4 linked regions of the Homo sapiens genome follow. The protein of the gene in region 4 purifies or fractionates together with the protein of the main gene of each other region. This does not show direct contact. Each region holds a gene or a part of one and is shown on either strand. Other genes may lie near its edges.

Region 1 (8,035 bases), on a different chromosome or scaffold from region 4:
TGGGCAGACCCAAAGCTGTACCTCCTGGAGTGGGGAAATAGTCTTCACTCAAGCATTCCAGCCAGTCACTAAACAAGCAAATAACAGTAACAAGCCCCCATGGGGGAGCGAGGACAACCAGTATCAAACTACACATATTATCTAAAATGTTCAACTCTCAACAAAACATTACAAGGCAGGCAAAAAAAAAAAAAATCCATACATTAGGGGGATAAAAGAGACAGGCAACAGAAACTGATTGTGAGAGCAATCAGATTTCAGACTTAAAAAAAGACTTCAAAGTAGCTATTATAAACATGTTCACAGAACCAAAGGAAATGATGATTACAGAAGTAATGGGAGTTATGGGGACGGTGCTGCATCAACTAGAGTATAACATCAATAAAGAGAAATTACAAAAAAGAACCAGATGGAATTCTACAGCTGAAAAGTGCAATGACTAAAATAAAGTCAGTACATGAGCTCAACAGTAGATCTGAACTGGCAGAACAAATAATTGTTCTATTGAAGATAGATCAATAGAGATTATGCAAGCCAAAGAATAGAGAGGGGGAAAAAATTGAGGAAAAATGAAAAGGGCCTCAAAGAAATGTGGGCCATCATTAAGCACATTTAACATATACATAATGGGAATATTAGAGGGAGAGAAGAGAGAAGGAAAAATATTTGAAGAAACATTGGCTCAAAACTTTTCAAACGTATTGAAAAACGTAACTTACATAACTAGGAAGTTCAATCAACTCAACTCCAAGTAGTATAAACTAAAAGAGGTGCACATACGGACACATCACAGTAAAAATTCTGAAAGTCAAAGGCAAGGAGAAAAATCTAGAAAGCAACAAGCGAAAAATGACACATCACTTACAAGGGAACCCCAATATGATTAACCGCTGACTTCACAGTAGAAACAGAAGAGGTCTGAGGCAGTGGCATAACACACTCAATCTCACATTAAGTAAAGCTGTCTTTCAAAATTGAAGGTGAAATAAGGACATTCACAGATAAATGAAAACAGAATTTGTTGTTCGCAGAACCACATTAACAAGAAATACTAAATAAAGTTTTTCGGGTTGAAAGCCATTTACCCCAGATGATAATTCAAAGAAGGAAGGAAGACCTCTAATCCACAACCTAACCTTCTGCCTAAAGACACTGGAAAAAGAAGCAAAATAAACTAAAAGCAAGCAGAAGGGAGAATAAAGATTAAAATGGAAATTAATGAATAATAGAAAAATAGAGAAAACCAATGAAACCAAAAGTTGGTTCTGTAAAAAGATCAACGAAGCTGACAAACCTTTAGCAGACTGGCCAAGAAACAGAGACAAGACTCAAATTACTCAAATAGGAAATGAAAGAAGAGGCATTACTACTGACATTACAGAAATTAAAAGATTATAAAGGAATCCTATGTATAATCATATACCAACAAATTAAGTAACTTAGATGAAATGTACAAATTCCTAGAAAGATACAAACTATGAAAACTGACTCAAGAAAAAAACACACAACAGACCTATAACAAGTGAAGAGACAGAATTAGGAATTTTACAACTATCTACAAAGAAAAGCCCAGGCCCAGACGGCTTCACCACTGAACTCAACCAAACATTTAAGAGATAATCAATAACAATTCTTCAAAAACTCTCCCCAAAAACAGTAGAGGAGGGAACATTTCCTAACTCATTTTATGAGGCCATTATTACTCTGACAACAAACCAGACAAAGGCACCATAAGAAAACTACAGACTATTATCTCTCATGATATGGACACAAAAACCCTCAACAAAATACTGACAAACTGAATCCAGCGACATATAAAAAGAATTATACAACTATGACCAAGTGGGACTTATTCCAAAGATGCAAGTGGTTTAACATCTAAAAATTAACATAATACATCATGCCAATTAAATAAAAATCAACAGGACTTAAATGTGTAAAGAAATTTTTGTCCTGTTACAAAAAAACACACAAACTGTTAATATAGTAGTCTTTCTACTGTCTATTCCTAAAAGTATAAAAAATAATATATCTTAAATTATAAGTTATTTCTTATGAGGTCAAAATTATGTTTGCTTTAAAACGGACACAAATGTATTATTTTACAAAAGTGATAATCAAAACCCTACCCAACGTGAAGGATCACTGATCAAATTAATAAAAAGTGCTGATAATTTGGTCCGTCGGATTTCTTGACATGTTGCACATGAAACCGCCATGAAGCATTCAGCACAAGCCTTTCGGACTCCCCATACATTATCAGAACAAAGCTGGAAAAATCTGGGCAGCTATGTGAAAAGGAAAGAGTCTTGTTAGTTGGATAAAGATAGCAGATTTCATCAGTTACTTCGCTTTCATTTTCTGCTTTCACGCTTCTTTTGTTTGTTTGTTTGTTTTGAGACAGAGTCTCACTCTTTTGCCCAGGCTGGAGTGAGGTGGTGCGATCTTGGCTCACTGCAAACTCCACCTCCTGGGTTCCAGCAATTCTCCTGCCTCAGCCTCCCAAGTAGCTGGGATTACAGACGTGTGCCACCACGCCCAGCTAATTTTTGTATTTTTAGTAGAAATGAGGGTTCACCATGTTGGCCAGGCTGGTCTCGAACTCCTGACCTCAGGTGATCCACCTGCCTTGGCCTCCCAAAGTGCTAGGATTACAGGTGTGAGCCACCACGCCCAGCCTCAGTGTTTTAAATGTTGGATTGTCTTAAAAAGTAGGATCTATTAGTATTTATACTCAACAATTTTCAATAAATCACATCTAATTTACTGTCTATTCCTAAAAGTATAAAAAATAATGTATCTTAAATTATAAATATATAACATATAATAATATATCTTAAATTTTAAGTTATTTCTTATGAGTCAAAATTATGTTTGCTTTAAAACGGACAGAAATGTATTATTTCACAAAAGTGATAATCAAAACCCTACCCAACATGAAAGATCACTGATAAATTAATAAAAAGTGCTGATAATTTGGTCCGTCGGATTTCTGGCTATGCAAAAGCATACTGGATTGTCTTATGCAATATTTCTGGCTATGCAAAAGCACTCCCAACAATCATAGCTTAAATGTTTTACAAGAGCTTGCCCCTGAACTTAATTATTTTGCATAAGAGATGGCTTCAGAAACTCTTTAGATATGGTGACTTATACATCAAGTATAGGCATCTTGTGTACTATTTAAAACTAACTTGCTATAGATTTAATATGTCATCAACATTCTTGAGGGTTGCAATAAAATTAAAGGTTCAATTGAATAAGTAAGAATTGATTTGCTTAACAGAAATGGAAGAGGTGAAAACAGATCAATGGTTCTGAAACATATCCATATTTTTAATAAATATCAAAAAGATAATTCAAATGCCCAGATTACAGATATTTAAACTCCTAAATTCAAAATTATCTTTCTGGTTTATATTCATGGAATTGTGTTAATAAAACTTTGGAGTAAATGTGTGCATTTCAAACTTTATGTACTACTTTGTAACACACACTGTTTACTCCTTTATATCTGCAATACTTACCAACATTTCTTCAGTAGCTTGCTGGCCAACTACACTGCAAATATCTCCAAAATTGGCAGCACAGACCTGACAACAAAAGCATCATTGACATTTCAAAATATTACACATAAGGTTCTTCTAAGATAATCTTTTAAATATCATGTATCAGTACATTAACCACTAGAACTATGTTCTTAAACAGCAGAAAAAAAACGACAAAAAAATACCTTTCGAACGTGAAACATTCTGCAATCGCAGCACATCTCACAAAACCTAGGGAGGATAAGACGCTCTGTAATATCCTTCCCAACCATGGGAGCCATTTTGCACATTATCTAAAATAAGTAAGAACAAACACACACTGAAAATATCAAGTAAGCCTCTTTCAGTTAAATTAAATAATAAAAGTATATAATTTGAGGAAACATAAAATATGATATGGCATCATTATACTATATACATGACAGAAAACATTCATAGCCAATTATTAATTTCATCTTATTTATCTAAGTAGGAAACAAAGACAGATATTAACCACAATCAATAAAAACAACCAATAAATACTGCATGCCCAGTAAACCCACAGAAAATCCTAACAATTTCATTTTTGTCCACAGTTTCCATCTTACTACTACTTCATCATTTTGCCTGGTAATTTTAAAAGCAAAACAAACAAACAAACAAAAACCTACATTTTCCCAATTTAAAAAATTGGTGACTGTTCAAAGGGAAAACTATCCCCAGGAAAGATCTAGATTTAGCATATCTGTATTGCTAAGAAAAAATTCAGTCCTCGCCTTGCAAAGCACCCTGTGAACTAAAGCTCATACATATCAGAACCATGTCCTGGTTTTGCAAAGCTTCAGTTCCAGGGAAAGCATGAACACAGTTCTGATATAGGCATGTTTCAGTTAACACAATAGGAGGCAAAGTGAGGATTAACTTTATTTGAAAACTGGCCCTCTATTTAGATACATTGTTCCCACAGTTAATACAGAAAGAAATGGGATAGCCTGTTGTCATTTATCAATTGTATCAATTGCTAGACTGTACAAACAGGACAAAATAAAGAAGTAAAAGAGATACAGATTGCAAAGAAAGAAAATTCTCTCTATTCAAATACGACATGGTTGTCTACACAGAAAATCAGAAGGAATCTACAAAGAAGCCACCAGAATAAGTATGTTTAGGAAGGTTGTAGGCTATAAATTAGAATATAAAAATCTATTGTATTTCTACAAATTAGCAATGAACAATGAACTGGAAACATTTAAGAACAGTATCACTCACAGAAGTACTTTTAAAAAATATGAAATCGAACAAAATACACACAAGAACTTTCTGCTGAAAACTACAAAAGATTAAAGATATAAATCAAAGACCTAAATAAATAGATCTACCATGTTCATAGACTGTGAAACTGGCAATTGTCTCCAAATTGATCTACAGATTCAACACTATCCCCATGAAAATCCCACCATCATCAGAACTAGAGATAACGCCTACATCTCCTAAATCCCAAAACCAGTTTTGTTTTTTGAATAAGCATCTCCATGCTCTAGTTAACAATCCAAAGTTATGCTGTATATCACTGATGTAGCATAACTAAATTTATTTAAAAATGAATTATTTTTATTAAGAAATTAATTTTTATTAAGAAATAATTATTATTTCTCTATCTATTAAGATAGAGAAAATATGGGAGCCATGGAATATAAAACATGACCAAAAAACAAACACAACTGTAAGAGAATCATAAGACTCCTACTAGCACTGGATATAGTTTTTAAATTTTTTATTGTAATGTTTTACTAATTTTACATTGCATCGAGAATTATAATACAGCAAGTTAAACGGCTCAATATAAACCAAAAATTAGGCCAAGCCCAAAACTGATTTCCTTCATTGCAAAAATCCTAAAGTGAAAAAAGAAATAATGATGTTTTGGAACTAGGAAGAAGTGGTGGTTATACAACTTTGTGAACATATTAAATGCCACTAACACTAAAATGATTTTATGTCATGTAAGGTTCACTTCAGTAAAAACATTACTGAAAAAGTAAATTTATTATTAACTGGTAACTGAGTATCTAAAAATAATAGATTCAAGAAATTCTTCAAGGGAAAGAGACTAGAGAGATCATCTAATTCATCCCATTACTGATGATCCAGAAGCACTAAATATAGTGTGATTATTAAAAAATATCAACAAAGACGCAACCATATTATTTTAGGCTTAAGGAGTGAACTCTTACTATCCAAATAGATATGAATAAATTTCCAGACGAATTTATCACTTTTCTAATTTACCATGAGAATTACTACTATCCGAACTCAGGAACCAGATGTGAATCACAACAGATACTACTCTATACTAATTCATGCCCTATCATGGCCTTCAAGTAATCAGAATATTTGCAAACCATGTCAAAAAAAAACCCAGAAACTTCCTATTACATTTGACTTTATGATGTGCGTAATGACTTAACAATCTGTATATTCTTCTGATAACCATCACTGATGTCATATATCCTGGGAAATGTACTTGCCTGACCATCCTTCCCACAAAGACCATACCTGTCAGAGCAGGAGCAAAGTATTATTTTATTTCCACTGTGCTTACACAGTGCCTAGAAAAGTGTTCAATACCTACTGAAGGGGTTCAAGTGTTTCTTCGTTCAGTCCAGGGTTTTTAAAATTTTAACTGCACTGATAAAATAACCATTTCAGTTTTCCACTTTGACATAATAATTTACAATTATGTATTTTTTCGTATTGTGTGCAGAAGGTACACTTTCCTTTGTAAGCCTTTATGTCCCTTTCTAGCCCTGATTGTATTTCAAATTTAATGATTTGTGGCAACTTTAACAGAAAGCAGCCTTTTCTTTCTTTCTTTCTTTCTTTTTTTTTTTTTGTTTTGTTTTTTTAAGACAGAGTCTTGTTCTGTCAACCTGGCTGGAATGCAGTGGAATGACCTCGGCTCACTGTAACCTCTGTCTCCCAGGTTCAAATGATTCTCGTGCCTCAGCCTCCAGAGTAGCTGGGATTACAAGCATGTGCCACCACACCTGGCTAATTTTTTTTGTATTTTTAGTAGAGATGGGGTTTTGCCATGTTGGCCAGGCTGATCTCAAACCCCTGGTCTCAAGTGATCCTCCCACCTTGGCCTCCCAAAGTGCTGGGATTACAGGCATGAGCCACTGCACCCAGCCCAGCCTAATTTTTTTTTTTTTCCTTGAGGCGGAGTCTTGCTCTGTCGCCCAGGCTGAAGTGCAGTGGCCTGATCTTGGCTCACTACAACCTCCACCTCCTCCCAGGTTCAAGTGATTCTCCTGCCTCAGCCTCCCAAGTAACAGGGACTACAGGCGCACACCACCATGCCTGGCTAATTTTTGTATTTTTTTGGCAGAGCCAGGTGTCACCATATTGCCCAGGCTGGTCTCCAACTCCTGACCTCAAGTGATCCACCCACCTCGGCCTCCCAAAGTGCTGGAATTACAGGCATGAGCCACCGTGCCTAACCCCGGCCTGACTTTTAATAAGCACCTCTTATCAGCCACATTTTGCATAAGTGGAAAAATGGCATTTGACTTACAGCCACAGCTTCTGTTTTCACATCATCATTGCTATCTGGGGCTGTCAGCTCTATGAGGACAGGGCACACTTTGGTCTCCACATCAAATCGTTCAATGAGCTCCTGCTCCAACAGAGCCAGCAAAGCTGCCTGACTTGTTTTCCTCACCTAGGAGAAAAATAACAACACAAAGAAAGTACATATGCAACATGACAAAATTCTATCACTTGATTTTTATAAACAAAGATTTCTCATCTCAAAGGGACCCATAACTGGCAAAACTCCGCAAATAAATATTTGTGTTTATTTTCTTCAACTATTACAAAGACTACAGAACTTCGTAGATTGTGCTGTAACAGAGGAAGTGGACAGAGCCATCCTGGTAAAAGATGCCTCACAAAGTAACAAACCTTTTAAGGGACCGCTAGGAGGTTACCAAGTGAGAGTGCAGTTACTAGGCATTGTCCATAATGGCATTAAAGGGATCTACTAGATTTGTCAGACTCTAAACACATCTTGTCTAAGATAAATATTCATTTTTGAAAAACAGTAAAACATTCCAAAGAGAACACTTAGGCTCGGCTATTCTCCATATATTACACTACGTAAATTTCTTTTAAGAACATATAAATGGTACTCTTACCTGATTATTCTGATCTGCAAGGTATCTAACCACAATAGGTAGTAAGAATTTTGAAAAAGCATATGGTATTGAAGGCCGGTTTTCTTGACAAAACAGTGCGATGTGAGGCACCTGTTCCATCAGCTCCGCTCTCACAGTTGGTTCTATTGAAATAACGGCAATGTGAGCAAACATGTTCTCCTGCAGCAACAAAACCTTTATCTGTTCTTGAGGGTACTTAGGAAGGCTATGGACTTTCATCTTCAAAATATAAAGGACTTGAGACAACATCCTTTAATTCTGCATTCCTTTTCAGAATCATACACAGATCAA
Region 2 (8,035 bases), on a different chromosome or scaffold from region 4:
TGCATATGACAGAAGACAGCATAAACAAATGACAGAAGGGAGATATTTGTAATATATTTATTAAACAAGGGATTTGTATCTAGAGTATATGTAGAATGTCTGCAATTCAGTAAGATAAGATTAAAGAATTTGGAAGAAAACTTAGCTGAAAGAGAAAACCTAAATATATAAGCATGTACTTAACCTCACTATTGTTCAGGAAAAGCCTAGGTAAAACAACTTTGAAATACCATTTCATACCCATCACTTTGGCAGAAATTCAGTAGCTGACAATTTCAAGTGTCTGAAGAATGTCTAGAAAATGGCATTCTTATTCACTATGGGTAGTATAAATTTAGTATGGCATAGTACAGTAAGTAGTATGACAGTTTCCAGTAAATTTTAGGCATTCACATAATGCAGTCAGAAGAAAGTCCACATTAAGATAAATACACTATAGAAATTTAGGCACAATGCTTATAGCAGCATAAATATTTAGCAAAAACTCAAATGTCCATGAATGAATGAATGCATGCATTAAATGTAATAGAAGATGGAACTATTACATCAGATCTTCATTTGTATCAGCAATTTAATGCCTTAATATGCTATTGAGTGAAAACAATTACAGAAAGATAAATTCAGTAAGATAGAAAATCGCAGCCTGGCATGGTGGCTCATGCCTGTAATTGCAGCACTTTTGGAGTTGAAGGTGGGAGTATTGCTTGAGCTCCAGGAGTTTGAGACCAGCCTAGGCAACATAGTGAGACCCTGTTTCTACCAAAAAAAAAAAAAAATTTTTTTTATCCAGGTGTGGTGGTTCATGCCTATAGTCCCAGCTAGCTACTCATGGGGGCTGAGGTGGGAGGATCCTTAGAGCCTTGGAGGCTGAGGCTACAGTGAGTGGTGATCGCACGCCATTGCACTCCAGCCTGGGCAACAGAGCTTGAGACCTTGTCTCCAAAAAGAGAGAAAAAAAAAAAAGAAAATCACATAAAGCCACACTGTGTATTGTTTCATGTGTATATAATGAAATACAGTCATGGGTGGAAAGGCAAAACACGTAATTTACAGTAAAACTTCCTTCAGGCCAGGTGTGTTGGCTTATGCCTGTAAGTAATCCCAGCACTTTGAGAGGCCTAGGCGGGCGATCACTCGAGGCCAGGAGTTTGAGACCAGCCTGACCAACATAGTGAAACCCCATCTCTACTAAAACTATAAAAATTAGCCAGGTGTGGTGGCGCATGCCTGTAATCCCAGCTACTAAGGAGGCTGAGGCAGGAGAATCACTTGAACCCAGGAGGCGGAGGTTGCAGTGAGCTGAGATTGCGCCACTGCACTCCTGGTTGACAGAGCAAGACTCACCTGGGTGACAGAGCAAGACTCTGTCTCAAAAAAAAAAAAAAAAGAAAAATAAGAGGTTTAACAATATTCTAGGATGTTTCTCATTTGAATCATTTTATAACATAAATTGTGTAAATTGGGATGTGATTATTTTTTCCTCTTTCATTTCTTAGCTTGAGGAAACTAATAGGACACTAACTAGTGATGTTGCCAATCTTGCAAATGAGAAAGAAGAATTAAATAACAAATTGAAAGATGTTCAAGAGCGTATGTATTAACAAAAAATGTTTATTTTTAATATACCTAATGTTTATCAGCTGCTGTAATTACCAATGTAATTTTAACTTTTTTCCATGTTTCAGAACTGTCAAGATTGAAAGATGAAGAAATAAGCGCAGCAGCTATTAAAGCACAGTTTGAGAAGCAGCTATTAACAGAAAGAACACTCAAAACTCAAGTATGTATAATAGAATCTAAATATGATTTTGAATTTTGTCTCAGTTTATCTCTTTTACATTTTACTTCTAGCATTACAAATTGGTAGCAGTAGTCATCGAATGTACCAATATTTGTGAAGTCACAATTACCTGATTTTTGCCAGGTTGAGAGAAGTTAGATTTGATTAATATTGTTAAATTCTATAGCAACTAAAATTTTTCTTAATATTTCCTTTTGGAATCACATTCTCTTTCAATTTATTGTTGTAATTTAATGTGTTTTTCTACTTTTAAGAACTGTTGGGATTGACCATTTGCTGACAACCTGAAAAGTGTCAGTTAGTTCACTCTCTGCCAACTCCTACAGTTGCATATGTACTGCATGAACAGGTGGGGTACTAGATACTCTTCACTGTTGTTGCACATAGAATATTTTATTAATTTGATGTCACTGCAAAATGTTCTTCCTCCAGAATAAAAGAAGAAAGGTCTGCCTATTAAAGTCTCTCTAGAACTAAAAAGTCAAAATGGTAGAAAGCAACATCAGATCAATTCTATAAATATTTAAATTATAATTCTCAGAAAACACGAGTAAAAATCTAATGGCTCATTGGATGGAGAAGGATGATGAGTAGTAAAGGAGGTGTATTATTTAAATATTATAGAAAGTGTTTCTTTGTAGCCCTGTATGTAGGGAAGGAGAGTATTTGTGATTGTATAACTTGTTGCTCTTGATGAGATACTGAGAAACCATAAACGTAATTTATTTTATTTATGTATTATATTTATTTTTACATTTTTTAAGGCTGTGAATAAGTTGGCTGAGATCATGAATCGAAAAGAACCTGTCAAGCGTGGTAATGACACAGATGTGCGGAGAAAAGAGAAGGAGAATAGAAAGCTACATATGGAGCTTAAATCTGAACGTGAGAAATTGACCCAGCAGATGATCAAGTATCAGAAAGAACTGAATGAAATGCAGGCAGTAAGAATACTTTTTGGACTCTAGACTGAAGACTTCTTTTTAAGAAGTAGAATTATTTTCATGTCTGTGTTTTACTGGTTATAGACCATTTCTATTTAATAATTATTATTGAACCAAGAAGCAAAATGTTGAGTTATGTTGCATCCAATTAACTTATTGTAATTAAATTTCTTATAGCAAATAGCTGAAGAGAGCCAGATTCGAATTGAACTGCAGATGACATTGGACAGTAAAGACAGTGACATTGAGCAGCTGCGGTCACAACTCCAAGCCTTGCATATTGGTCTGGATAGTTCCAGTATAGGCAGTGGACCAGGGGATGCTGAGGCAGATGATGGGTTTCCAGGTATGGATTTGTTTTCAGCACTAATATTTATCTTAAATATAAATCAGTTGATTGTTTTAAGTCTTGCGACTGACTGCTCTGAAGGAAAAATGTTTGTAATTTCTTTAAGGGAAAACCTACTCCTTGGAGTAAGGATTCAAGTAACATTTCAAACTTATTTTATTTATTGATTTTTTTTACAAAGTTTTTCATAAACATACAAAAGAAAAACTCCACATGTCTAGTTTTTAAATTATTATATTAGCTCTATTTTTAAGCTTTCGTTTCATTTTCTCTTCTTTCTGCATTCTTACTTCCTTTTATGTTGGGTGTTTAGTTCATATCACTCAGTCACACACTATGGAATCCATGTCATTCACCTACCAGCGTTCCTCTACTTCTCTCAATATTGCCACTAAGCCTTCCAGTTCTCACACGCTCCTTGACTCTGATTCTGACTCAGAAGAAGAATCTTTGCCTTACTTACCCATTTCATCGGAACCTAATGGTACAGGTGATATCCTGAAAATCTTCTCATCTTTGGAGTTTTTCCCACTACCCTTAATTTTAGTCCTTTTGAAGATTTTTTATGTAACATTAACTAATAACCACTAACTCTAATATGTTGTTGTAGACTCAGTTAAAAATAAACTGCTGCATGAATAAAGAATTTGTTTTTAAGGTATTTTCTCATGGCATTGCTGTTATAATTGATAGATGCCAACTTGCGAGAAATGGAGTAATACATTATATTGCTTAAGAGCGCATGGTTTCACTGCTTGTTTTAGCCATTTTCAACCAAGAAGAAATTCTTCCTGAAGTTTCATAACAAGAGTGGTGGTACAGAAAAAGTACTTCGACTGATTCAAAGGATATGCTTAAGGTTTTTACTGAGTACTTACTGACATTATCCTAGGCATATGTCCTTCATAAGAAACATGAAAGAATTTGGCCCGATCGTTACCCTGAAAGAGATTACAGTTTAAATGAAAACAGCAGAGAGTTCCGTCATTCAGAGTCAGAGGCAGCCCTGTGTGATCTTTCAAGACTGCAGTTTCCTCATCTAAATTAGGAAAATAATTCCTGTTCTGTGCGGTTTTTTTAGGATTAAAGAGAATTTGTGTAAAGCATCCAGCACGATTGATACATAATAGAAGTTAAATAAGTGATAGCTACTTTTACTATTAGAATAACTTCCCCAAATGCTATTTCACATATTTATTTCATTAAAAGACATTGATCAAATGTCATTAAAACAAATTCCGAGGATTCATACACATTCCTTAGTTGAATTACAATGTTACTGATTTTGATATTTTGGAATTTAGAAATCTTTTGATTATTTTGCTGCTTATTAACCAAATTTTATCTAAAATGTACGTAATTGGTCAGGTGTGGTGGCTCATGCCTATAATCCTAGCACTTTGAGAGGCTGAGGCAGACAGATCACCTGAGGTCAGGAGTTCGAGACTAGCCTGGCCAACATGGTGAAACCCCATCGCTACTAAAAATACAAGAAATAGCTGGGCGTGCTGGCGCGTGCCTGTAATCCCAGCTACCTGGGAAGCCAAGTTAGGAGAATCACTGGAACCCAGGATGCACAGCCTGCAGTGAGCCAAGATTACGCCACTACATTCCAGCCTGGGCGACAGAGCAAGACTCCATCTCAAAAAAAAGAAATAAAATAAAACAAAATTTACATTATTTTATTTTATTATAGTTATTCTAAAAGTCCATTTTCTCTGAACACGTAATTATTTAAAATATTTACTCCTTGAAAATGTGCACAATGTGGCCCTCTTCCAAAGGAAAAATAAAGGAGTCTAAGGCAGGTGTACCAGTGAGAATAGAGAGTTGCTGCTGCTGCCTTTTTTTTTTTTTTGGCAACTTTTCTCCTGAATTTTATAAATGCATGAATTTAATCAATGGAACATTTGACTTTATAAAAGTATAGACTATCTGTTTCCAATATGATATAACCTGGATTTTGTTTTGCATTGCATAACTTTTTACTACTGATCCTGTACTATTACTGTATCCTAGATGATGTATAGTGATAAATTCTAAAGGATATATTTTATTTGTTTTATAAATTTCATATTAAAATTTTATTAAGTTCTTTGTTATCTAAGGAGAATTGTTATCTTTAGCCTCACATGTTGTGCTTATTTGTAGAATCAAGATTAGAAGGATGGCTTTCATTGCCTGTACGAAACAACACTAAGAAATTTGGATGGGTTAAAAAGGTAATTGATACTTTGGAATATGAGCCTTTTGTTTTTGTTTTTGTTTTAACTCTAGTCATTTGGCTTTTGTAGTTGTAGGATATACATGACTGGTACCTTTAGACACATAGAACTTGTTTATACTTCAGGATTTGAAATGATATGATTTTATTTATCTTTGTAAAAAATTTTTGTCCTCATACCTTGTTAATAATAAGACAGATTTTATTGTTAGGAAATTGTTGATTTTGATACTTTTGCTGTTTTGTTGGGAAAAGAACTGTGAATATAGTAAAAAAGACCCACTTATTTATTTTCCTCTGTTACTATGATTATTGATGTTATTATGTTTATTTTTGAGAAGGTTACTAATGATGTTGGATCCCAAAGCTAAGTCCAAAAAAATTTGACTTTACTTCTCCCCACAGTTTGCTTATTTAAAATATCTATTAATATAAACAAAATTTATTGTTATTTTAAGGAAGACTGTCCTAAAGATATATTAAATACTTTTTAGTTACTTAGTATTTTATGATTTTTATTGCTAATATAGAATTTATTTTCAAAAAAATCAATAAATAAGGTATATAAAAACTTGAATTACTGATTTCTTTTCTCCCTGTTTTAACAGTATGTGATTGTAAGCAGTAAGAAGATTCTTTTCTATGACAGTGAACAAGATAAAGAACAATCCAATCCTTACATGGTTTTAGATATAGAGTAAGTGTTTTTGTTAGAATATTTAGAAACTATATCTTTTAAAGTATAAGAGACTAACAATGCAATTTATTAGTCTCATAGTATAGCTCCTACTGTAATATTGTTACATTTTCCTGTGATTTGCTTCATACAGATGAAAGTCTGGGATACAGGGTTAGTTAAAACATCTTTATTTCATGGGCCTTTGATACATTATTTTTTGAAACTAATTAGAAAATTTCTGACATAGAGGTTTCTAAAAATCTTAATTAATTATAGAATTAATAGAACAAAATATTCTGAGTTCCTAACATGGGTCAAAGTAGTCAGTGTTTAACGTCTGATGTAAGTATAGAATAATTAATATATAATTTGATCCTTGGGTGATATTTTATTCCTTTATTCAAAATTTTTTATAGCAAGTTATTTCATGTCCGACCAGTTACACAGACAGATGTGTATAGAGCAGATGCTAAAGAAATTCCAAGGATATTCCAGGTAAACATAGTTTTGTTTATATTTGGTTGGTTGGCTTTGTTTTGTTTTTTTCACATTTAGAAGTTCTCAAGTGACATGACATGTTAAATCTCTTCATTCTTTGACCCTCTTCAGGTTACCTTTATGTTTCAGTCCTATTTAAAGATGGTTTGTTGCTTTGTGACTTTTGTGCTTAATTCTGTTTGGGAACGTTTTCATTCCTTTCTCCATTTTATTTGTTAAAGCTTGCGGTGTGTTTGTATCATGTTTCTGGTCTTTGCTATATTTTTGTTTAAGGTTGGTTATGACTTTTTTTTAAACATGAATTTTTCCCTTTCTGTTTTTGTTTAATCTCAGCTCTCTAGAAAGTTAGAAAAGTCAGTTATGGAGGTAAATTTTGTACCTTGTAGCCCTTTTACCTCCGATTTAAAGTGAAGCCACATTCTTCCCTTTACTACTTCCATTTTAAAATTAGTCAAACCAACAATGACTTACTGATTTCCTTCTATGTAAGAGTCGTTGTGCTTGGTGTACTGTGTGGAAGTTGGCTCCTTGTTTTCTGGATGCTTGTCATGTTTATTTGGAGTTTAATACACATCCTTTCCTCTTTCTTTTCTCTCTCAACTCTCAAAATATAGGACTTTTAAAATGAAGCTGTGCTCATAGCTGTTACCCAGTTTTCTGTTAAGTATTACAAAACACCAATTAGTGTGATTGCCACATTTCTTCAAGTGATTATTTTGAACAGTCTCTCCCAGAAAAACTTCCTAACACCTATGAAGTTACCTTTTGCTGACCTATTCTGATAGTGCTGCTAAAGCATGGGTGTTATAAAGAAAATAAGGAGGCAGCATTTGAACAGGATCAGTTCTTTTGAAATGCAAACCAAAGTGACTGTCTGATGACTTTTCTTATATAAGCTCTTGATTAAGTTTGCGTAATCAAGAGCTTAAGTTTGTACTTCAGATACATTTTCTTCTCTTTGAATAATTTAGGCTAATTTTATTTTACTTACACTATCAGAATTGTTCCTACATAAAAAAATAGCATGTTTGGAAATCACTTATTGTTCTTTTGGCATTCATAGATTCTGTATGCCAATGAAGGAGAAAGTAAGAAGGAACAAGAATTTCCAGTGGAGCCAGTTGGAGAAAAATCTAATTATATTTGCCACAAGGGACATGAGTTTATTCCTACTCTTTATCATTTCCCAACCAACTGTGAGGCTTGTATGAAGCCCCTGTGGCACATGTTTAAGCCTCCTCCTGCTTTGGAGTGCCGCCGTTGCCATATTAAGTGTCATAAAGATCATATGGACAAAAAGGAGGAGATTATAGCACCTTGCAAAGGTAAATGATAAATTACTTGCTCCATCGATATTGGTTATGTTCAGATCATTTTAAGCACATTAATTTTTTTTTCTAATTTTTCTTTATAGTATATTATGATATTTCAACGGCAAAGAATCTGTTATTACTAGCAAATTCTACAGAAGAGCAGCAGAAGTGGGTTAGTCGGTTGGTGAAAAAGATACCTAAAAAGCCCCCAGCTCCAGACCCTTTTG
Region 3 (7,151 bases), on a different chromosome or scaffold from region 4:
AAAGTAAGAATGAGTTGTAATCATAGAATATGAATCCATGAGTAGTCCACACTGATATATCTACGAATGAACAAACAAGCAAATGACTAAATAAATAAATGGGGTAGAAGGGAAAGTTCTAACTTATGGTAGAATGCTAATTATAAATATAGAAAGAATGATGGAATAAGAAAGTCACCCTTTGGCAATTATTAATAGCATGGGAATAACTCATTCAGACAAGAATCATCTAAGAATGCTAAAACTAGTTGACGCAAGTTTCATGGGAACAGGATATTTATATAGTTTCAAAGTAGCTCCCCACAAAATGCTTATTAATTTTCTGTGGAGAAACTTGGAAGACACCATTTTAACCACCTTAACATCAACAGACTATAACTTTAAAAATGGAAAAAAACAAGGACATGGCTGGGCGCGGTGGCTCACGCCTGTAATTCCAGCACTTTGGGAGGCTGGGGCAGGTGGATCACCTGAGGTCAGGAGTTCACTTCACTAACATGGTGAAACCCTGTCTCTACTAAAAATGCAAAAATTAGCCAGGCGTCGTGGCACATGCCTGTAATCCCAGCTACTCAGGAGGCTGAGGCAGGAGAATCGCCTGAACCCAGGAGGTGGAGATTGCAGTGAGCCAAGATCACGCCATTGCACTCCAGCCTGGGCAACAAGAGCGAAACTCCGTCTCAGAAAAAAATAAAATAAATAAAAAACAAGGACATGGAAAAATGAGAACCCTCGTACACTGCTAGAGAGGATGTAAAATGGTTACAGCCACTTTAGAAAACAGTTGGCAGCCCCTCAAAAAGTTAAATATAGGTACCATATGACCCAGCAATTCCACTGTTAGGTATATACCAAATAGAACTGAAGGCATATGTTAACGCAAGAACTTGCACATGAATGCTGCTAGCAGTGTATTTCATAGTAGCTAAAAAGTGGAAACAGCCCAAATGTCAGCCCATTCATCAACTGACGAATGGATAAACAAAATGCGGTATATCCATACAATGACATATGTCAGGTCTCTCCAGAGAAGGCGGACAAATAAGATGTGTACGTTCTGTTTTCATATAGATACGTGTGTGTATGTGTATATATACATAGAAAGAGAGAGAGACATTTAAGGAATTGGCTCACAGGAAGCTTGGCAAATCCAGAAACTGATAGAGTAGGCTGATGGTCTGGAGACTCAGGGAAGAACTGCAGTCTGAGTCCAAAGGCAGTCTGTTGACAGAACTTCTTGCTTGGGGGACAACAGTCTTTGTTCTATTAAGGTCTTCAACTGATTGGATGTGGCCGACTCACACTATCACACTATGGAGGGTAATCTGCTTTACTCAAAATCCCCTGATTTTAGTTTATTCATTTATTTTTTGAGACATGGTATTGCTCTGTTGCCTAGGCTGGAGCTCAGTGGTATGATCATGGCTCACTGAAGCCTCAACCTTCTGGGCCCAATCGATCCTCCTACTTCAGCCTCTTGAGTAGCTGGACTTGAGTAGCTTGCCTGGCCCCAAAATTCACTGATTTTAAATGTTCATCTCATAAAAAAAAAAATACCTTGAAAGAAACATCCAGAAAATTGACCAACCATCTGGGCACCATGGCCAGTCAAGCTGACACATAAAATTTACCATCACAAATGGTAATAAAGTAATAGAATGTAACATTTACATATTACTCTCAAATGAGTCAGAAAAAATATAGCATATATAACCTGTGTACATATATACAGAAAGAGAGTGATAAAGCAAACATAATAAAAAGTTGACAACTGGGCTGGGCACGGTGGCTCACGCCTGTCATCCCAGCACTTTGGGAGTCTGAGGCGGGCGGATCATTTGACGTCAGGAGTTTGAGACCAACCTGGCCAACACGGTGAAACCCTGTCTCTATTAAAAATACAAAAATCAGCCAGGTGTGGTGGTGCACCCTTGTAATCCCAGCTACTCAGGAGACTGGGCAGGAGAATTGCTTGAACCCGGGAGGCAGAGGTTGCAGTGAGCCAAGATCGCACCACTTCACTCCAGCCTGGGCGACAGAGTGAGACTCTGTCTCAAAAAAAAAAAAAATTCAACAACTGGGAGATTCGGGTGAGGGTGTACTGAAATCCTTGATGCTATTCTTTTTTATTCTTTTTATTATTTTTAAATATTTCTCATGTTTGTTTCCTATCCTTTGTACTATTTTTGCAATTTTTCTGCAAGTTTAAGGTTATTGGCAAAATAAAAGTTAAAATAGAAAAAGAACATAAAGTATATGCACAAAGAGTATTGTTTAGAAAAGAAATCTACCTATTGTGAGGCCTGTGCCTGGTACCAAGTACATGCTGAATAGCTGCTGCTGCTGCTGCCAGCTTTTCAGGTCTGGAGAGAAAGGTTATTTCTCATAAGAAGTCACAAGGGGGCATCCCAAAGCCAAGAAACACCATCTAGCACAGAAGTTCACTGAGTCTGTAGAGCTGTCGGTGTCCTACCGTTCCTTACCCAGAATGCACTCCTTAATCCTAAAGAAAAAAAAGAAAAAGCTTTGTCTGCTAAAAGCAGGGGCTCCTTCCTTTCACAGTGGACAAGGCTATGGAGCACCTGAGAGCTGGTCTCCTTTCCTTCTGTTTGGGTCTGGATTTCAGAGCAGCTGTCAAGGGTCACTGCATATATCACAACCAGGACATCGACTCTGGAGACGTATGAAAAGGAGCGGACGAATGTGGTGGCAATGTAGAAGAGTGAGCCCTGGAATGAGAACTCACAGACATTCACGTGTTGTGTGTACTCAGCCATATCCCTCCTTATCCTCTTTTCTTTTAATTGATTTTTAATTGTAAATGGACAATTTATACTTGTTTATAATTATGGGCCACAAAGTCCTATTGTGACTTATAAATACAATATGGAATAATTAAATGAAGCCAGTTAACATATCCATCACCTCAAATGCTTAACATTTTTTGGGTTGAGAACATTTGAAATTTACTCTTAGCAATCTACCATGCTATGCAATAGATCTCAAAACACAATATATTCCTCCTGAGACTTTGCACCCTATGACCATCATTTCCCCATTCCTCCTCCCCGAGTCTCTGTAACCACCATTCTACTCACTGCTTCTACATATATAAATATATATATATACATATATATATACATATTTTTTTTTTCTTTTTTGAGAGAGAGTCTCGCTCTGTTGCCCAAGCTGGAGTGCAGTGGTGCAATCTCAGCTCACTACACCCTCCACCTCCTGGGTTCAAGCAATTCTCCTGCCTCAGTCTCCTTAGTAGCTGGTATTACAGGTGCCCACCACCACACCTGGCTAAGTTTTGTATTTTTAGTAGAGACAGAGTTTCCTCATGTTGTGCAGGCTGGTCTCCAATTCCTGGGCTCCAGCGATCCACCCACCCCAGCCTCCCAAAGTGCTGGGATTACAGGCGTGAGCCACCACGCTGGTTCTTCCACTCACTGCTTCTATGAGTTCAAATGTTTCAGATTCTACAAATAAATGACAACATTTCTTCCTGTTTTCTTTTTTTCTTTTTTTTTTTCTTGAGATAGAGCCTCGCTCTGTCGCCCAGGCTGGAGTGCTGTGGCCCGATCTCAGCTTACTGCAAGCTCTGCCTGCCAGGTTCACACCATTCTCCTGCCTCAGCCTCCCAAGTAGCTGGGACTATAGGTGCCTGCCACCATGCCTGGCTAAATTTTTTTGTATTTTTTGTAGACAGGGTTTCACTGTGTTAGCCAGGATGGTCTCAATCTCCTTACCTTGTGATCCGCCCGCCTCGGCCTCCCAAAGTGCTGGGATTACAGGCGTGAGCCACTGCGCCCGGCCCATTTCATCCTGTTTTCTTTTTTTTTTTTTTTGAGACGGAGTTTCACTCTTGTTGCCCAGGCTGGAGCGCAATGGCGCAATCTCAGCCCACCACAACCTCTGCCTCCCGGGATCAAGTGATTCTCCTGCCTCAGCCTCCCAAGTAGCTGGGATTACAGACATGCGCCATCATGCCCGGCTAATTCTGTATTTTTAGTAGAGACGGGGTTTCTCCATGTTGGTCAGGCTGGTCTCGAACTCCTGACCTCAGGTGATCCACCCGTCTTGGCCTCCCAAAGTGCTGGGATTATAGGCGTGAGCCACCATGCCCAGCCTCATCCTGTTTTCTTAATCTGACTTCTTAGATGTTCCACCTGGAGCTCCTAGGATTTAATGTTTCTAAGTTCTGGAATATGTCCATTCTGGTCTACCTGACCCTGTCACAAACTGCACCTTGAAATGAAATTGCTCTAGTCACAAAAGTCTCTTGCTACCTGCCTGTGATTACACAGTGCAGCAGAAGGTGCTGTCCAAGGTCCAAATGAAGCCTCTGGTATTTAATGTATTGAGTCTCAGTTTCCTTATCGGAATAAAACAAATAATAACATTCGCTTTTTGAGTCTTGTAAGAATTAGATATATAAATATAGTATCTAGAACAGAGTAGATATTAAATGAATTGCAGTATTTTCTTTTTACACTTTGGTTTAAGTAACAGGGTGTTGTAGAAAAAAATGGGATTTAAAGTTAAGACAAAGTTCCTGGTTGAGTGCCGTGGCTCATGCCTGTAATGCCAGCACTATGAGAGGCCAAGGTGGGAGGAATACTTGAGTTCAGGAGTTTGAGACCAGCCTGGGCAACATGGTGAGACTCTGTCTCTACAAAAAATTTAAAAAATTAGCCGAGTGTGGTGGTGTGCACCCATGGTTTCAGCTACTTGGGAGGCTGAAGTGGGAGGATTGCTTGAGCCCAGGAGGTTAAGGCAGAAGCTGTAATCATGCCAACGCATTCCAGCCTGGGCAACAGAGCAAGACCCTGTCTTTAAAAAAAAAAAATTTACATGAGAATACGCCTTTAAAAACTCTGGTGGCCGGCCGGGTACGGTGGCTCACACCTGTAATCCCAGCACTTTGGGAGGCCAAGGCAGGTGGATCACAAGGTCAGGAGTTCGAGACCAGCCTGGCCAACATGGTGAAACCCCATCTCTAATAAAAATACAAAAAAAATATTAGCCGGGCATGGTGGTGCATGCCTGCAGTCCCAGCTACTAGGGAGGCTGAGGCAGGAGAATCGTTTGAACCTGAGAGGTGGAGGTTGCAGTGAGCCAAGATCGCACCAGTCTGGGTGACAGAGCGAGACTCCGTCTCAAAAAAAACAAAAAAAAGAACTCTGTCAACAACATTATTACCCCAGCCAGAAATGACCTTCCTCCGTTAAATAAATAAAAATCTTAATCTGCATGTCCCAGCTCAAGTGTTACATCTTTCAAGAAACTTTTCTCTAATAATCTCAAAAATATAAATAATATGGTATCCATATTCTGGACATTGTTAAAAAAGAATGAGGAACGTCTACATGTACTGAGATGGAAAATCTCAGAGACATTAAGTGAAAATAAGCCATGGAATACATACATTATGATTCCATTTTTATGTTTAGAGAAAAAAGGAGGTGACCATGCCATTCTCTTGCTTAAAACCCTTCAGTGGTTCCCCACTGCCAACCACGTAAAGTCTGAGCTCCTTAGCTAACATTCGTGCTCCTTCACTATTTGGGCTCTGCCAACCTCTGTGGCCTCATCTCCTACAGACCGATCTTGTCATTTTGAGCCCTGGGTTCCAGCTGTGACTAAAGTGCCCTCCACCATCTCTTCCTCTAGATCAGTGGCTCTCAAGCTTTAGCATACATCAGAATCACCTGGAATGCTTGTTAAAATACAGACTGCTGGCTGCACCCGTAGAATTTCTGATTTAGGTCTAGGATTGGGCCTAACAATTTCTATTTCCTGTCAAGTTCCCAGGTGATACTGATGCTGCTGTTCTAAGAACCACACTTTGACAGCCAATGCCTTTACAATGCTTATGATTCAGTTTCCTCACCTACATATAGGCTGACCAATCATGTTGGTTTGAGACTGCCCCAGTTTTGGCATTGAAAGTTTCAAGTCACAGAAAACCCCTTAGTTCCAAGCAAACTGGGACAGTTGGTTACCACCTGCATAAGAATCTCTCCCAGGTGGCAGCTTACAGGACATTTATTGCTACTGCCAAGCAGGCCTTCTCTATGGCCAGGCAACAGGGAGTGCTGAGGAAGGAATTCCATCGTCCTGACCAACTTTTTGCTGGAGTAAGAGTATTTAACAAAGTTCTTCATATTCAGGCACCTCCAAACATATTTTCTTTATTTCCTCCAGAGAACAGGCTTTAGTACTGAGGTCCTTGTAAACATTTAACAAAACTGGTTTAAGAACAAACTAAAAGCATCTATATCCTTGCCCTGTGTTGCTGGGGTGAGTTTATACAAGGAGAAGTTGGAACAAATGCAGTGGGCACAATGACCTTCTTACTCAGTTCAAAGTAGGTCTTGGGATGAGAGTTCCACACGGCCAGTACAGCTGACTTTCTGTGATTTCCAAGGGGTGCCCAAGACATTAAACGCCATGGTCCTTGGGAAGGACTGATGATGTTTCTGCTCATTGTTGATCAGGGTCAAACCTTTTCACTAACCGGGACTGCTCTTTCCAAGAAGTCAGAGGTCAGAAAGCTGGTAGCGTCGTACAAGACCGTCTCGACAGCATGTGTAGATCTGCTTCTCCCATGTGGCTACCTAAAACACAAGAATTCACAGTTCAAAGGAAGCCTGGGATTCTTCCATTTCAAAAAGATGGAGGCTTATGATTGACACACACTAGTCCCATGGAGTCTGAGAAGGCTTTATGAAGGCAACAGAATTACATCCATAATTATGTGCTTACAAAAATTGTTGGCCCATAGTGATGGATGCATCCCAATCACCAATGGTTGGGATGCACCATGACTATATAACAGAGAAACTAATTGGCCCAAGTGGAAAGCAAACCCATTAGTATTGTTCAGGTTTAGCACAGATGGTCTGCCTCTAGGGAGGAGATGGTTCAGAGATGGGCTTGACTATTCTTGAACCTTATAAAATTGGATGCAAAAATGTTCTGAATATGTGTCTTTTTTTCTGAGGAGGATTTCATCAACTCCTCAAGGAAAACAGCATGAATTCTGGAGTTAGTCTCAGCTTTACTACCAACTAGCTGCATGACCTAGGGCAACTTTCTCAACCCCCCAGGCCCCAGTTGCCTCATTTGTACAATGGAAATGTGTT
Region 4 (8,035 bases):
GGTTTCACCATGTTGGTCAGTCTGGTCTCGAACTCCTGACCTCAAGCGATCCTCCCGCCTTGGCCTCCCAAAGTGCTGGGATTACAGGTGTGAGCAACCATGCCCGGCCTGAAACCATATGTATCAAAGGAAACTAAAACCAATACTTAAGGAAAGTTTGTACTGTGACTGGGTAAATTATGGCCTTGCTACATTAAGTGCAATTTCTTTTGCCCTCTCTGAAAATAGGTAATTTTTTTTTTGCTATTGTTTTCTAGGTATCTGAGAATTTCAAGCCTTCTGGAGAGATAATATGCTTTATTTATCTCTTTTTTTTTTATCACCAATTTCCAGTAAAGTGCCTGGCACAGAGGTACCCAATTATCTGCTGAACAAAACTAAACTATATGATCATAGAGTCATAATAAAAACTAACTTTGAATAAGAGAAAGGGAGGAATGTTGAGCTATATGGAACCAGAGATAATATAATTTAGAAGCATTATTCTCTTGGAAAACTGTGGTATAGTTTAGTATAGCAGGTCTGTTAAAGTAGGGGAATAAGTCATGTAGAATTAGTCAAAGCTTCTTCAAGAGTAATAAGCTCTGTGGGGGCAGGGAACTAAGACTACAAACTCTTCCCTAGATTTCATGATATAATACCATCTCTATTCTCACCCCATTACCTTAGCCTACTTCCAGTAAATAGTTTTAATTGAGTGTAAAAGGTAGCTTAAACAAAACACTAACAATATACTCTGTGGATAATTGAGAGGATGAGTCCAGACCTACAAAAGCATGAGAGAGAAATATAAGCAATATCGCTTAAACAGAGTTTCCTATTAACTAAATAGTTATTATGAGTGTGTTAATTCTTATTTTACTTTATTGTGAGATAGGGTCTCACTCTGTCACCCAGGCTAAAGTGCAGTAGTGCCATCATAGCTCACTGCAGCCTTGAATTCTTGAGCTCAAGTGATCCTCCCACCTCAGCCTCCTCAGTAGCTAGGACTATAGGCATGTGCTACCATGCATAGCTATTTTTAATTTTTTAGTAGAGGCAGGGTCCCGCTATGTTGCCCAGGCTGGTTTTGAACTCCTAGCCTCAATTGATCCCCCTGCTTCAGCCTCCCTAAATGCTGGGATTACAGGAATAAGCCACCATGCCTGGTCCATGAGTGTGCTACTGTTTAGCTTTCTCAAACTCCATGAACTTACTTGTTGCACAAAGCATGTAAGTATATCATAAAAAAGAATAGTTCACTGAGTCAACCAGTTTAACAAAAATTTATTTCTGATGCTATATATAGTGTTATTTGGTTCTAAGGATATTAAAATCATTACTATGTAGATCAAATTGAAAAGAATGTTTTTTGTCAATCAATAGTTTTTGGAAATGACTAGTGCATATATACTGGGAAGTAAGCACATCTGGAATGTTGATTTAGCTATCTATTTGCAAAATAAAACAGTCTATTCTTTTGCTTTAACCAAAAGGACTATAATGTCATAAAAAGACCTCTGAAAATTTTCATTTCCAAGACTTCAAGAAATTAAAAATAATGATGGGTTTATTTTCAGAACAAAGAGATTTTTAAAAAATCCCGCTAATCTTTTCTTTAATAGTAAGGTCAAAGGAATTATTAATACTTTTAAAAATCTCAATAGTTTCTGATTCTTTTATAAGGTTTTGAGTTTCCAGCAGATTCACTTTTTAGTATTCTCCATTTGACCTTGGAGCTTCTGACTGAAGTTTTGCACAACCTAAGCAAAACAAGCAATAGGAAGTTTTTCAAGAGTTCTCAGAAAGAGATGGACTAAATTCTCTTTTCTAAATCAGGAATGAAAAGACATTTTGACCCATTCTAAATATCATGCCACTAGAGATGCTATCTTTAGGGAGAGAGAGAGGAAAAAAAAAACCTGATTATCAAATCCCTCTTAGTGATTAAAGATCAAATGGAACTTTTCACAAGAAGTGCTAGCCATGATGTCCTGATTCATTGATACTTCCCACACAGAAGTAGCTCATCATTTCAGCAGCAGGATGGGCACAATTCATTGTCTAAACAGAAACAGTACTGAGTTTGTATAGTTTAATATCTATAGCTAGCAGCTAAAGTTTTTTGCTTATGTGTACTGACTTTGTGGAAAGGCCATTGGTTATAATATTTCATTCTAATAGAAGAGAACATTTCATAATACATAATTTTTACTAGTTCTTCTTTGTTCTCATATTCTGAACTTGAAACTATCCTAAAGCCAATTTATTGTTTCCCTGTTATAAGAATGTGGATCCACTGGTATGATCTATAATCTACAACATTCTATTTACAACACAGAACATATGTCAGAAATACCTTTATCTTATGGGCCCTCTCCCCACTCCCTCCATTTTTATTTTTAATACCTCATTCCCTGTTGACATGACTGCAACCACTGGAAACTTATTAACTTCAACCTCTGTGACACCTACAGTTGCCAGAAGACCAATCTCTGAGGGGCCCATGTGGGTTCCTTTGGCCAAAACACATTCCCCTCTTTTAATGTCATGGCCGATGGGTCTGAAAGTCAAAGCAGAACCATAAGCAGTGTGATTAGAGAACAACATTTTCTCAACTCAGAGGGAAACTTTAGTGTCAAAAAAGGACATTCAAGAAGACAAAAAAGTCTAGAAATAAAGTAGTAGGAAAACAATGAATTGAAGGGATTCTAAAAATCCTATGCTTTTTTAATTTTAAAAGTTAAATCACACAACAGAAAACAGAAATAGGATTTGAATGTATTACTGCTAAAGAAAAACATGTTACTTCATATTTGAAATTTTTTTTCATGAGTACCTGTGAATAAAATTACTTTACAAATTGTTTTATGTTACATTATAGTAAAAATACCAATTGTAAACTTTCTTTGATAAGGCAAGAATTTGTATGGCAATATCTAGCGGCATTAATGATAAGAGGTCCACAGCTGGCTAGCTTTGTCAAGGAGAATAATGCTAATGAGGCTACAGTCATAGAGGTAATTTCCATATGGACCACTTAGGTTGGTCCTGATCTGTGGCTACTGAGGTACATTAACCTTGGTGTGCTGCCATAGGGATGGGAGAAGTGTAGCTTCGTTACAAAGGGATGTTCAGCAAATTAGTATTAATGGAATCAGGGTAAACATATTCCATTTTAAGAAAAATAATTTAAGGTATATGCACTATTTATCATAGCAAATAGCCTCATCTTTGTATATAACAAGGAACAGATTATTCCATTATTATTGGTAGTCACTAGAGCATATGCTATTAGTTAATTGTGTAAATACCCAATTCTGGTATTATCTGAGTTGATACCAAATTCCAGATTATTTAGGGATGGGATTGGGTAATTCTGGATTATCTAGAAGTAGAATTAACTGTAGAATATGTAGGCTCATGACTTTACCTCTTTCTCATCTTGCTTTTGACTAACTCGCCTTTACCATCTTCATTAAAAAGTAGGCAGGGCAGATATGTGATACAGAATTCATAACATTCATTTTGCTTTTTGTTAAAGCCCTGAAAATTAATGGCTAACTGACATGGCTGCAGATTTATAGTAGCCAGGGTTTCCTGAGTAAATGATCATGTAGAAACAAAAGTAGGCTATATATTCTATGTGTTTTGAAGTTACCTGATATCTTGGCCTGGCCGAGCTTGCACCAGAATTCGCACTTCAAGTTCTTCAGTGCCCTATAATAACAGCCGGTCATGTAATTTCAAACAGAATTTCTGAGCAGTAGAATTTAGTTACTCCGATACTTTTACCATCAGATAGGCCCAGGATATATACAAATATAGACAAAAAGAAAACTATTTGCTACACCCTTTGAAAACACTGAATTTCTAACACAGGTTCCTGAAAAATTAGAAGGTTTGGTGCCAATAAATAAAAAATTTTTTTCTCCAATTTTTATGCTTTTAAAAAATGTACCAATTCAAATATTAAATCTTGTTTATAAGATTTAATATTTGAACTAATACATTATATAGAATTTGTTTATATATTTTTATATACATATGTAGGTGGCTACCCTAATAAAGTGAACGTGTGTGGAGGTAATATCTTCCTTCTTTTCCCATGAATCATGGGTTCAATACCATGCCAAGGTTACCAAATACTTGCAGAAATTTCAGTAAAGGACTTATAGTTTGCCTGGTAGTAGATTTCTGTCCATTAATTGCAGTAATCAATTTTACATTTATGGGCTGTGAATAATATTGTGACATTGGAACTGTGTCTTGTCATCTGGCAGAGTCTGTGGATGTATGTGTTCTGGAATTCAGTGCTTTGCTGGCTTCCCTGATGCCAATAAATCTGCTTAGGCAGTTTTAACAGCAGGCAATGTGATCTGTTTGCCAAGGGTTGAATTTTATAAGCCTTACATATGGAAAGGTGATTAAAAAGAAAATCTCCAGATCAGGGAAAGTGTCTGTCTCTTGGCATGGCCAATTTTACTATCTACTCGGCTTGGGAGAATATATGTTTATTTTTCACCTCAGCTTTAAAATATATCTTTACTTTCTTCATAAAACAAGTAAGAGAGCTGATTATTAAAACCTCAGTTGAATCTATTCTACTTTTATTACTGGCTTATACTCTGGTTTCAATAACCTGCCACTATTTTCAGTGAGATAAAGGCTTGCTTAGGTCCAAAAAGATTCCAGCATCTTTTACTTGAGGCAATGGAGGGAGAACTGACATACACTTAATATTTCCAGGCTGTCATTTGGTGGCACAGCTTTTTCCAGACTTACAGAAAACCAGAGGTGAAAGGGTCATTTGGTTCAAATGCTTGGCTTAGTGTAATATTCAAGAACTTGCCCAAGTGCTCTTTGTTAAATTCTTCTCTAGTAAATTCTGATTTCATGAACTCCTTGACATTTTATCAGAAGCTAGTCTCAATGGCAAATTTCTCAGCTGGAAGGTATGTCAACCATTAATATCTCTGCTCTGGAAGGTATGTCAACCATTAATATCTCTGCATTTCTTTCTTGAGGTACTTTCTTTCGTTGTTTGCATGTGAAACTGCTTGGGTCAAATATGATTCAAATTCTGCTATAACAGCAATGATCATAGAAACCCCTCCTGTAACAACAGATTTTCAAGATTAAGGAAATTTCTTATTTACTGGAGACTCATATACTACAATATAAGATCCCACCATAAGCAAAAACAAAACAAAACTAAACAACCCAAAAAACTGGGTTAATCTCACAAACACTGCAGAAAATGGTTGTGACATAATACTGCCATAGGAACAACAGCACAGTAAGACTTGGTGATGACGTACATCATCTGATTCCCTGATAAGTTCGGTATCTTCCACTTGTACTACTGCATCAGCACCGCAGGGTATTGGAGCACCTGTTGTAACCCGCATGACTTGTCCTGGCATTACTGTCTGAGTTGGCTGGAAATAAAGATGAAAAAGACAGTTGATGTACTTTGCTGCTGCAAAGGAAAAGTCTGCAGAGGATGTTAATTTTTTTAATATTAAAAAATAAACCATAAAAGAAAGTCTTACAGTCTTATTCATTTTGGGCCAGTGTAATAAAAGCTATCCACAAACAGGTGCACTCACACTAAAGGGGCTTTAGGTTCATTTAAGCTGATTTTATGTGTACTTTAAGGTAATGACTATTCGGTGTCTTGGTGCTCTGCTTTACTTTTGAAGAACTGCCATTTACATTTGCCACTTTTGCCTCTCAAATAATGTACATTTTCCTAATATATGTAAAGTGATTTGAGAGTCTGTAAGTAAAAAAATTGCTAGGACATACATTGTGAATAACAATTACAAAAAAAAATCTTCATAACTTATTGAAGTTCTAATGTTTGAGAAATGCAGTACTTTATTAACTAAACTTTTTGGTTAAATAAAGGCAAGCCAGAAATATTTTAATTATTGCCTTTGAAAATATTCTAAAACACATTAGCTCACCTATCAATTAATAATAGAGGTTGAGCAAATATAATTAAATCATTTAAAAATGATTCCAGTGTCTGTAATGACCTAGGTTAAACATTACTTTTGAAAATGAAAAACAAGATTTTCATTGTTTGTGCTCTCATATTGATGGTATAAGAGACAGAACCTTCCCTGCTAACTTCTTACAACATGAGGAAAAGCATTTTTCTGTAAGATTCATCTGATAGATTTGATCTGATAGAGAAGTGATCTGAAAGTCACTTGTCAGGGGCAATGATTTAGACTGGAGTTTGGAAAATGAATGCTTCAAATTCTCCCTAAGAAAAAATCCTGAGACAATATTAATCCCCCCTGCCAAAAGATTCCTTTCTAAAGATGTCTGCCTCATAAGTATAGTCACGTGCTGCATAAGGATAGTTTGCTCAATGTTGGACTGCATATATGATGGTGGTCCTATAAGATTACCATATTTTCTACTGTACTTTTTGTTTTGATAAACAAATACCATTATAATTGCTTACGTATTCAGTAATACTGTAATATGCTGTGCAGGTTTGTAGCCTCGGAGCTACAGGTCACACCATGTAGGCTAGGTGTGTAGTGGGCTACTCATGCAGGTTTGTGTAAGTACACTCTATGATGGTCGGACAACAAGAAAATTGCCCAACAACATATTTCTCAGAATATATCTTCATTAAGTAACTCATGACTCTATTTAAAATCTTAAGTCCCTACAATGTGAATATATTTACCACTACTGAACTATAAGCTTAAAAACTGTCAAGATGGTATATTTAATGTTATGTGTGTGTATGTTTTGTCATTGTTGTTATTTTAACCACCAAAATAAGACAAAGTAAAATAAACCACACACACACACACACACACACACACACACACACACACACCCCTTAGGGAATGGTTAAGAAAAAAAAATACCTTACTACTGAAAGTACAATCAAAGTAAAACAGGAAATTTATTACAAAAGTCTTAAAAATCTTCTCTCCATAATATTATTACTGTAAGCAATACTACCAATAACTAATATTTATTGAACCCACAATCTATGCTAGGTACAATGTTAAGTGCATTATATATTACAGAATATAAGCCTTACAAAGACAAAGATTTGTTTCATTTTCTGTTTGCCTCTCCAGATCACATCATCATTCTCTACTCTGTGCTGTGGTCCAGAAGCTGACCTCTATGGACTATTTTAACCAGTTTCCCACCACTTTGGCGTCTGGTGAGACTCAGCCAAAGGGAGGGGTCAGTAAGAGATGTAGAGGGTAGGAGAGAGACAGAAAAGTAGAGTTTTCATTCCCCTTGCTCTTTTCCTCCTGGGCTGCAGTTTGGTGATGGTTAGGGCATCTCTCCTACTGAGAGCAAGAGCTGCTGTTGGGCAGTCCTCTCCCACAGATATGAATCTTCCCAGGTTCAGGTACCATTGTCTTTCTTTGCTCCTTCAGACTAAGATGTGGTAAGGAAATCTCACTGTTGCTAGCTCCTGGGTGCTGCAGATTCCTTTATTGGTTTCCCTTAACTCCATCCAGACATTGGAGATAGTTTCTAATCTTCTTTAATCATCCTTTTTCCAGACATATTGCTCTGTTATGGCAAGGCTTAGAAAGTATGTTGCACACACTTTGCCAAGCTGAGCACCTACGCATCCCAGGCTGAGCTGATGTAGTCACTCATGTCCTAGGGAAACAGAGTGCTGATTGAGCCAAGATATCCTGACCTACAGGCCAAATAACTCTAGTACCCTGCTTCTCTGGAGCTAGACTATAGCCCCTTAGAGTCTGAGCTGCTGAGATACCCCCCTCTCTGGGGAGTTGAGTCATTTCTGTGTTGATCCTTGGCCCCCCCGGGGATCAAACCACAGCTGCGCTCTGCCATTCTAAGGTATCTGCTGCTTCTGCACCTGGCCTCAGAGTCTGAAGTGAGGACCTGCGTAGCCCCACCATCCAGGGGTCTAGGGTCACTACTACACAGTACCTTATCCACTGTGACCCGAGCTGCTGCTGAGCCCTACTGGCTCTGGTTCCTGAGCTGCGGCCATACCCTGCTCCCCTGGCCAAAACCTTTTTCTTTG

The links.
Region 1: the proteins of GPHN (region 4) and PPP4R1 fractionate together in Homo sapiens (co-fractionation; one large-scale study listed by BioGRID). This does not show direct contact.
Region 2: the proteins of GPHN (region 4) and ROCK2 fractionate together in Homo sapiens (co-fractionation; one large-scale study listed by BioGRID). This does not show direct contact.
Region 3: the proteins of GPHN (region 4) and PAAF1 fractionate together in Homo sapiens (co-fractionation; one large-scale study listed by BioGRID). This does not show direct contact.

The regions. Positions count from the first base shown.
Region 1 is NC_000018.10:9,580,988-9,589,022, forward strand, and holds part of PPP4R1 (serine/threonine-protein phosphatase 4 regulatory subunit 1), read right to left. Parts: intron 7,867-8,035; coding exon 7,724-7,866; intron 7,249-7,723; coding exon 7,102-7,248; intron 3,842-7,101; coding exon 3,734-3,841; intron 3,594-3,733; coding exon 3,528-3,593; intron 2,289-3,527; coding exon 2,130-2,288; intron 1-2,129. UniProt on the Homo sapiens protein: Regulatory subunit of serine/threonine-protein phosphatase 4. May play a role in regulation of cell division in renal glomeruli. The PPP4C-PPP4R1 PP4 complex may play a role in dephosphorylation and regulation of HDAC3.
Region 2 is NC_000002.12:11,192,236-11,200,270, reverse strand, and holds part of ROCK2 (rho-associated protein kinase 2), read left to right. Parts: intron 1-1,496; coding exon 1,497-1,590; intron 1,591-1,685; coding exon 1,686-1,780; intron 1,781-2,565; coding exon 2,566-2,745; intron 2,746-2,922; coding exon 2,923-3,091; intron 3,092-5,245; coding exon 5,246-5,316; intron 5,317-5,926; coding exon 5,927-6,015; intron 6,016-6,413; coding exon 6,414-6,492; intron 6,493-7,558; coding exon 7,559-7,820; intron 7,821-7,909; coding exon 7,910-8,035. UniProt on the Homo sapiens protein: Protein kinase which is a key regulator of actin cytoskeleton and cell polarity.
Region 3 is NC_000011.10:73,926,757-73,933,907, reverse strand, and holds the end of PAAF1 (proteasomal ATPase-associated factor 1), read right to left. Parts: intron 6,624-7,151; coding exon 6,546-6,623; 3' UTR 2,794-6,545; downstream 1-2,793. UniProt on the Homo sapiens protein: Inhibits proteasome 26S assembly and proteolytic activity by impairing the association of the 19S regulatory complex with the 20S core.
Region 4 is NC_000014.9:67,107,525-67,115,559, reverse strand, and holds part of GPHN (gephyrin), read right to left. Parts: intron 7,187-8,035; exon of another isoform or gene 7,098-7,186; intron 5,421-7,097; coding exon 5,301-5,420; intron 3,700-5,300; coding exon 3,641-3,699; intron 2,543-3,640; coding exon 2,389-2,542; intron 1-2,388. UniProt on the Homo sapiens protein: Microtubule-associated protein involved in membrane protein-cytoskeleton interactions. It is thought to anchor the inhibitory glycine receptor (GLYR) to subsynaptic microtubules.